Homo sapiens: one gene and its partner. The protein of the gene in region 2 purifies or fractionates together with the protein of the main gene of each other region. This does not show direct contact. Each region holds a gene or a part of one and is shown on either strand. Other genes may lie near its edges.

What was found.
Region 1: the proteins of FMO5 (region 2) and ERICH5 purify together in Homo sapiens (affinity purification with mass spectrometry; one large-scale study listed by BioGRID and IntAct). This does not show direct contact.

What each region holds. Positions count from the first base shown.
Region 1 is NC_000008.11:98,091,244-98,094,344, reverse strand, and holds the end of ERICH5 (glutamate-rich protein 5), read right to left. Parts: intron 1,125-3,101; coding exon 1,012-1,124; 3' UTR 736-1,011; downstream 1-735.
Region 2 is NC_000001.11:147,218,746-147,222,575, reverse strand, and holds part of FMO5 (flavin-containing monooxygenase 5), read left to right. Parts: intron 1-3,830. UniProt on the Homo sapiens protein: Acts as a Baeyer-Villiger monooxygenase on a broad range of substrates. Catalyzes the insertion of an oxygen atom into a carbon-carbon bond adjacent to a carbonyl, which converts ketones to esters.

The DNA of each region.
Region 1 (3,101 bases), on a different chromosome or scaffold from region 2:
CGGGAGGCTAAGGCAGGAGAATTGTTTGATCCCAGGAGGCAGAGGTTGCAGTGAGCCGAGATCGCACCACTGCACGCCAGCCTAGGTGACGGAGCAAGACTCCATGTCCAAAAAAAAAAGAAAAAAAGAGTAGAGCCCAGGAATAGACTCTACATAAGCAACAATCTAGGTTTTAATCCTTGCTGTTTATTGTCTCCAAAATACATTTAAAAGTGAATTAATTAAAAATACTTTTAATGTTATTCAAAAGGATAACACCAATTGAAAAACCTCATGTGAGTATAAAATCAACAGCTGATTCGAAATGGCACATGGAAAATGTGTAGCCTTTCATCATGAAAAATGTCTAACCTTGTGATAGCACCAGAGTTGCAATCCTTTGCAAAGGATTCTGTTAACATATTTAATATTCCATGATAAATAAGGATCTGTGGTAGTTGACAAGCTTAAAGGAGAGCAAATGTGTAGATGACATACTTCCTAAGGTTCTTATCAGCTCTGAATTCTATAACAAGACAGAAATATTTGGTATAGTTCATCCTATTATTTTTGCTGTTGTTCATTCTCATTCCATCATGATTATAATTGTGTGACTTTATTATTGTGAGTTCCCTAAAATTTGCTAACTCCTTTCTCTAGCCACTTGTACCTAAAGGTTTACACTTTCTTTTTAGGGTCTCATTTTCTATACTGAATGGCCCCATGGCCACAATGAAGAAAGTCACCCTCACACTCTTAAATAATCACATCATTTTTATTGGCTTTGGTTTTTATACTTTTAAATGTATAACCATTCTAAGTAGCTAAGAAAACTGTTCATGGCTTAGCAGTTTTGCAGAACAATATAATCAAGAACACAGAAACATCCTTCTCATGGTTCCAACAGTCTCTCTATAACCACACTCCTTACAGAAAACATGTAAATGTAGAAAGATAAGATACATAACCACAAGCTTCACTACCATTTTTGTCTCCTCTATGATAACACACTGTGTCGGTTCACTCTTCTATCTATGTGGCTGCTGAAAGGTCCACCACTTCTCCTGTTTCTTCTTCTTTGGTTTCAGCCCCTTCACTCACTTTCTCATTCTCCATGTCTGTTTCCACCTTTTCCCCTGTCTCACCTGGAAAAGTAACCAAAGGAGATACTAAGAGACATTTATTTAGAATTAACATAAATTATCCCACAGTTTGTCTCCAATGGGGGCAGTTCTTGATCTTCAGGTCTAAGCAGTAAGTTTCTCTGGGGGTATCAAGAAAAGTAATCATCTCAGCTGGGCACCGTGGCTAACACCTGTAATCCAACACATTGGGAGGCCAAGGAAGGCGGATTGCCTGAGGTCAGGAGTTCAGGAGCCTAGCCCAAAGTAATGAAACCCCGTCTCTACTAAAAATACAAAAATTAGCTAGGCATGGTGGCACAAGCCTGTAATCCCAGCTACTCGGGGGGCTGAGGCAAGAGAATCACTTGAAGCCGGGAGGCAGAAGTTGCAGTGAGCTGAGATCACGCCACTGCACTCCAGTCTGGGCGACAGAACGAGACTCTGTCTCAAAAAAAAAAAAAAAAGGAAAAGAAAAGTAATCATCTCGATTCTCTCAGAGCCTCTGAATGGCTGAAATGTCGAGTCAATTAACATCTCGAGTCTTGGCATACTCTTATGAAAGAAATGCTCTCTATAAAATCAGGATGCAAAATTACCAAAGAAATGGTGGTAGAACAGATTATAATAGAAAGTTCATGGCCAGGTGTGATGGTTCCCACCTGTAATCCCAATGCTTTGGCAAGCTGAGGCAAGAGGATCACTTGAGGCCAGGAGTTCAAGACCAGCCTGGGCAACAAGACCTCCTGTCTTTACAAAATATTTTTCAAAAATTAGCTGGACAGCTGGGCGTGGTGGCTCACGCCTATAATCCCAGCAATTTGGAAAGCTGAGGCAGGCAGATTGCTTGAGCCTAGGGTCTGAGACCGGCCTGGCCAACATGGTAAAACCTTGTTTCTACAAAAAATACAAAAATTAACCAGGGATGGTGGCGCCCAGCTACTCAGGAGGCCGAGGAGGGAGAATGGATTGAGCTGGGAGGCAGAAGTTACAATGAGCTAAGAATACCACTGCACTCCAGCCTGAGTAACAGAGCAAGACTCTGTCTCAAAAGTAATAATTTTTTAAAAGAAAAAAAAATTAGCCAGGCATGGTGGCACATTCCTGTAGTCCTAGCTACTTGAGAGCTGGGGCAAGAGGATCCCTTCAGTCCAGGAGTTGGAGATTATAGTGAGCTGTGATTGCATCACTGCACTCCAGCTTGAAGATCTTGTCTCGAAAGGAAGGAAGGAAGGAAGGAAGGAAGGAAGGGGAGAGAGAGAGAGAAGAAAAAGAAAGAAAAAAGAAAGAAAGAAGAAAGAAAGAAAGGAAGAAAGAAAGAAAGGAAGAAAGAAAGAAAGAAAGGAAAGAAAGAAAGAAAGAAAGAAAGAAAGAAAGAAAGAAAGAAAGAAAGAAAGAAAGAAAGAAAAAGAAAAAGAAAGAAAAAGAAAGTCTAATTTGTATCTAAATCAAAGGGTGGTCCAGGGGTGCCCCTAAACCTGTCTGGCTTGGCCATTATGTGTTTAAAAACAATCGTTAAACATTTACAGACAGCCAACACTAACAAGTCTGGACATTGCACACACTTGCAGGAAACCCTGTTTCCCTGAGAAGTTGGCTTTGGCAACATTGGCCCTAGTTCCATGGCTGGAGCTGTGCGGAGCTTCCTCTTTTGACAAGGCTGTGCTCTCCTGTTTGCCAAGGTCCCCTGGGCTCCCACAGTATGACATGTGTCCTTCACCTCACTCATTTTCAGTATCCTAGGCCTAAAGACTTTTGAGTTTGCCAATCCTGATGTAAAAACTACCTGCTTTTATTTGCCTCTCCCAAGTTGTTCCCAGGGCCCTTCTTACACATTCTTAGGAAAGCAGTTCCCACAACAGACTATGGTGATGCACGCACATCCTGCCTTCCCACACTAGACAGTGAGCCCCTTGAGGACAGAGACTATCTCTTCCTCAGTCTGCATCTCAGCACCTAGCATATGTTTAGGCATGCCAAAAAATGCTGAGTTAATAAATG
Region 2 (3,830 bases):
CCCCAGATGATTCCAATGTGCAGACAACAGTTCAAAGAGAGTTTCTATTCCATGGGATTTTGAAAATCTGACAGGAACAGAAGCCCCAAACTGTCCTCATTCCTCCCATTTAAATTTTTCTCCTTTCTTCTGTCCTTATTACTTCTTCCAATCCCATCAGTTCCAATTTCCCCAACTTCCATCCCCTGCTCTCTCTCTCTTTTCTTTTTAGGCAGAGTCTCACTCTGTTACCCAGGCTGGAGTATAGTGGCGTGATCTCAGCTCACTGCAACCTCTGCCTCCTGGGTTCAAGTGATTCTCATGCCTTAGCCTCTCAAGTAGCTGAAATTATACACGCACTACTACGCCTTGCTAATTCTTGTATTTTTAGTAAAGATGGGGTTTCACCATGTTGGCCAGGCTATTCTCGAACTCCTCACCTCAAGTGATCTGCTCACCTCGGCCTCCCAAGGTGTGGGGATTACAGGCATGAGCCACCGTGCCTAGCCTCTCTTTTCTTACACAGACTTCCTGCTCAAATGTGTGAGCCTTGTGCCTAGGTAGGAAATATAATCAGTGTATAGAGTTTGTAGAGAGAAGATTTATTCATCAATGGTAGAAAATTGTAAAATGCAGGAGCAGAAGCTTCTTTTTCTTCTACTCACTAACCCAATACTGCTCTGTGCTCACTCTTTTGGAAAGCAGTGGATTGGCACAGTGGTAAACCTTACCTAAGTTCCAATCAGGTGTTTCGAAGGATTTGAAGGATGTTGTTGACACAGGATAACACTTGTTGTGGTTAGTGATTTGAAAAAGAGTTGAAATATAGGAGTACCTCAAAGAGGTGAGATCTGTCATTCATTTCACTCAGTGATCCCAACAGACCTGCTGTGGATAGGATGGCTCTACTCTTTGTAAACGTTGAACTTTTGGAATACACATACAGACTTGCATTTATCAGTACCTCATAAAGTATTTTATTACAGAGGGACTTTCTAAATATCTCTTGAATGAATAAATGAAATGAAATTCAGAAGTTAGGAACATGCCTCACCTGCTCTCCATACAGCAAACATCTTAATTCCAAAATGACCTTGCCATTCATTAATTTACCTTAATTAAAAAATATATACACTTATGTACAAACATGTTTAAATAAGCTTTTAATTTTAGAACAGTTTTAGACTTACAAAATTTATTAGGAAGATAATACAGAGAATTACAGTACACCTCATGTCCAGTTACCCCATTTTACATTAGTATGATACGTTTTTAAATAATGAATGAACCAATATTGATACATTATTATTAACTGAAGTCCATACTTTATTCAGATTTACTCAGTTTTTCCTAATGGCCTTTTGCTGTTCCAGGATCCCATCCAGGATACTGCATTACATTTAATAGTCATATCTCCTTAGGCTCTTTTTGGCTATGAAATTTCTTAGACTTTCCTTGTTTTTGATGCCCTTGATAGTTTTGGGGCCAGGTATGCTGTAGAATATCCCTCAGTTGGGATTTATCTTATTTTTTTCTCATGGTTAAATTGGGGTTATGACTTTTGGGGAGGAATATTATAAGGTGCCATTCTCCTCACCTCCCATCAAGGGTACATACTATCCACATTATACCCACTGTTTTTTTTTTTTTTTGGAAACTTAAAACTCATTTTATGTTATTATAAGTAAGAAATTAGCATTCAATATATGCCACAATATATCTTTGTTGAAGTGTAAGTTTGTTCCACTTTTCTATTTTTCATTTTCCAACTTTTATTTTAGGTTCGGGGGTACATATGAAAGTTTGTTACAAGGATAAATTGTATGGGGCTGGTATAACTGCTAGCCATATGCAGAAGATTGACACTGGATCCCTTCCTTTTGCCATATATGAAAATCAACTCAACATGCGTTAAAAAGTTAAATGTAAAATCTAAAACTATAAAAACCCTAGATAATATCACTATTGATGTTAACCTTGATGTCCTGGCTTGAAATAGCGTTTGTCAGTTTTTGCCACACTGTAAAGTTGCTCCTTTTTTCTCCATTGCCATACTATACTCTTTGGAACAAAGTCACTATGCACAGCCCACTATTAAGGACAAAGTCTTCTATTCTAGGCCTTCTGTCTTTCCATATGAACTTTAGAATCCATGTGTTAGCTTGGATTCTAAAATAGCTTGCTGGGATGTTGATTGAGATTGCATTGTATCTATAGGTCAAGTTGGAAAGAACTGACATCTTAACAATATTTAATCTTCTAGTCTATGAATCAGAATATCTCTCCATTTATTTAAATCTTAGACTTTCTTCATCTGTGTTTTCTAATTCATGCTTATAAATCCTATACATATTTTGTTATGTTTATACCTACGTATGTAATTTCAGGGGTATTACTATAGATGGAGTTTTTAAAATTTCAAATTCCAGTTGTTCATTCTAGTATATAAAAAAGCAAATGACTGGGTGCGATGGCTCATGCCTGTAATCCCAGCACTTTGGGAGGCCGAGGTGGGTGGATCACGAGGTCAGGAGATCGAGACCAGCCTGGCCAACATAGTGAAACCCCATCTCTACTAAAAATACAAAAAATTAGCTGGGCAGGGTGGCATGCGCCTGTAGTCCCAGTTACTCCGGAGGCTGAGGCAGGAGAATTGCTTGCACCCGGGAGGCAGGGGTTGTGGTGAGCCGAGATTGTGCCACTGCACTCTAGCCTGGGCAATAGAGCGAGACTCTGTCTCAAAAAAAAAAAAAAAAGCAATTAACATTTGTATGTTAACCATGTATCCTGCAACCCTGCTGTACTCACTTGTTGACTCTAGGAGTTTTTTTCTTTTTTTCTTACTTTTTTTTTTTAATCCTTTGGGATTTTCTACATAGACGGTCAGGTCATCTGCAAATAAAAAGTTATCTTTATTCCTTCCCAATCCGAATATCCTTTACTTTTCTTTCTTCTATTATTGTACTAGCTAAGACTTCTAGTGCAATGTTCCATAGGAGTGGTGAGAGAGGACATCCTTACCTTGTTCCCAGTCTTAGGGGAAAAGTGTCTAATTTCTCACTGTTAAGTATGATGTTGGTTATAGGTATTTTGTAGATGTTCTTTATCAAATTGAGGAAGTTTCTCTCCATTCCTAGTTTGCTGAGAGTTTTCATCATGAATGGGTGTTGTACAAACAACATTTTAACAAAAATAAAAGAAAAAGAAAGCAATCCTACTGCCTTAATAAGTCGACTGGTTTTCTGTATTTTCACATTTTTTTCTATTTCAAATAAATGAAGTATACTCAAAAGAGACATGTCTAACAGGGAGCGATTATACAAGTATAATTATATACCCATAGATAGACATAATATTACATATTTGGTGATTAGAATGTAAATTTAATTTTACAGTTCCCTTTGTACTTCATTATATCATACGCCATTTTTAATGTTCCTGCACAGACTTCAAAATCATAGTTTTTGGTGTCTCCAAATTCAATTTCCATAATTCATTAACTAATTCATTTCAAAGCATTTATTGCACATCCAGTACACACCAGGTCCTGATAATAGAGATTTAAAGAAGGATATGGCTACTCTCGGGTTTCTCACAGTCATGGAAACAAATGCCTGATAATATAGTGTGTTTAAGTTATCTTTATAGAAATATGAACAGAGAGTTTTGGGAGCTTGGAGGATGAATAGCGGAATCTAATTCTCTGGAGAAATTAGAAAAGTCTTGTTGAAGGAAGTGACATTTGATGTAACTCTTGAAGGACAGGAAATTTTCCAGATGAAGAAATAGTAATATTTACGAAGGTTTAAAGTTGTGCAAGAGCCTAGAGTGTTTCAGGAACAATTTAATAA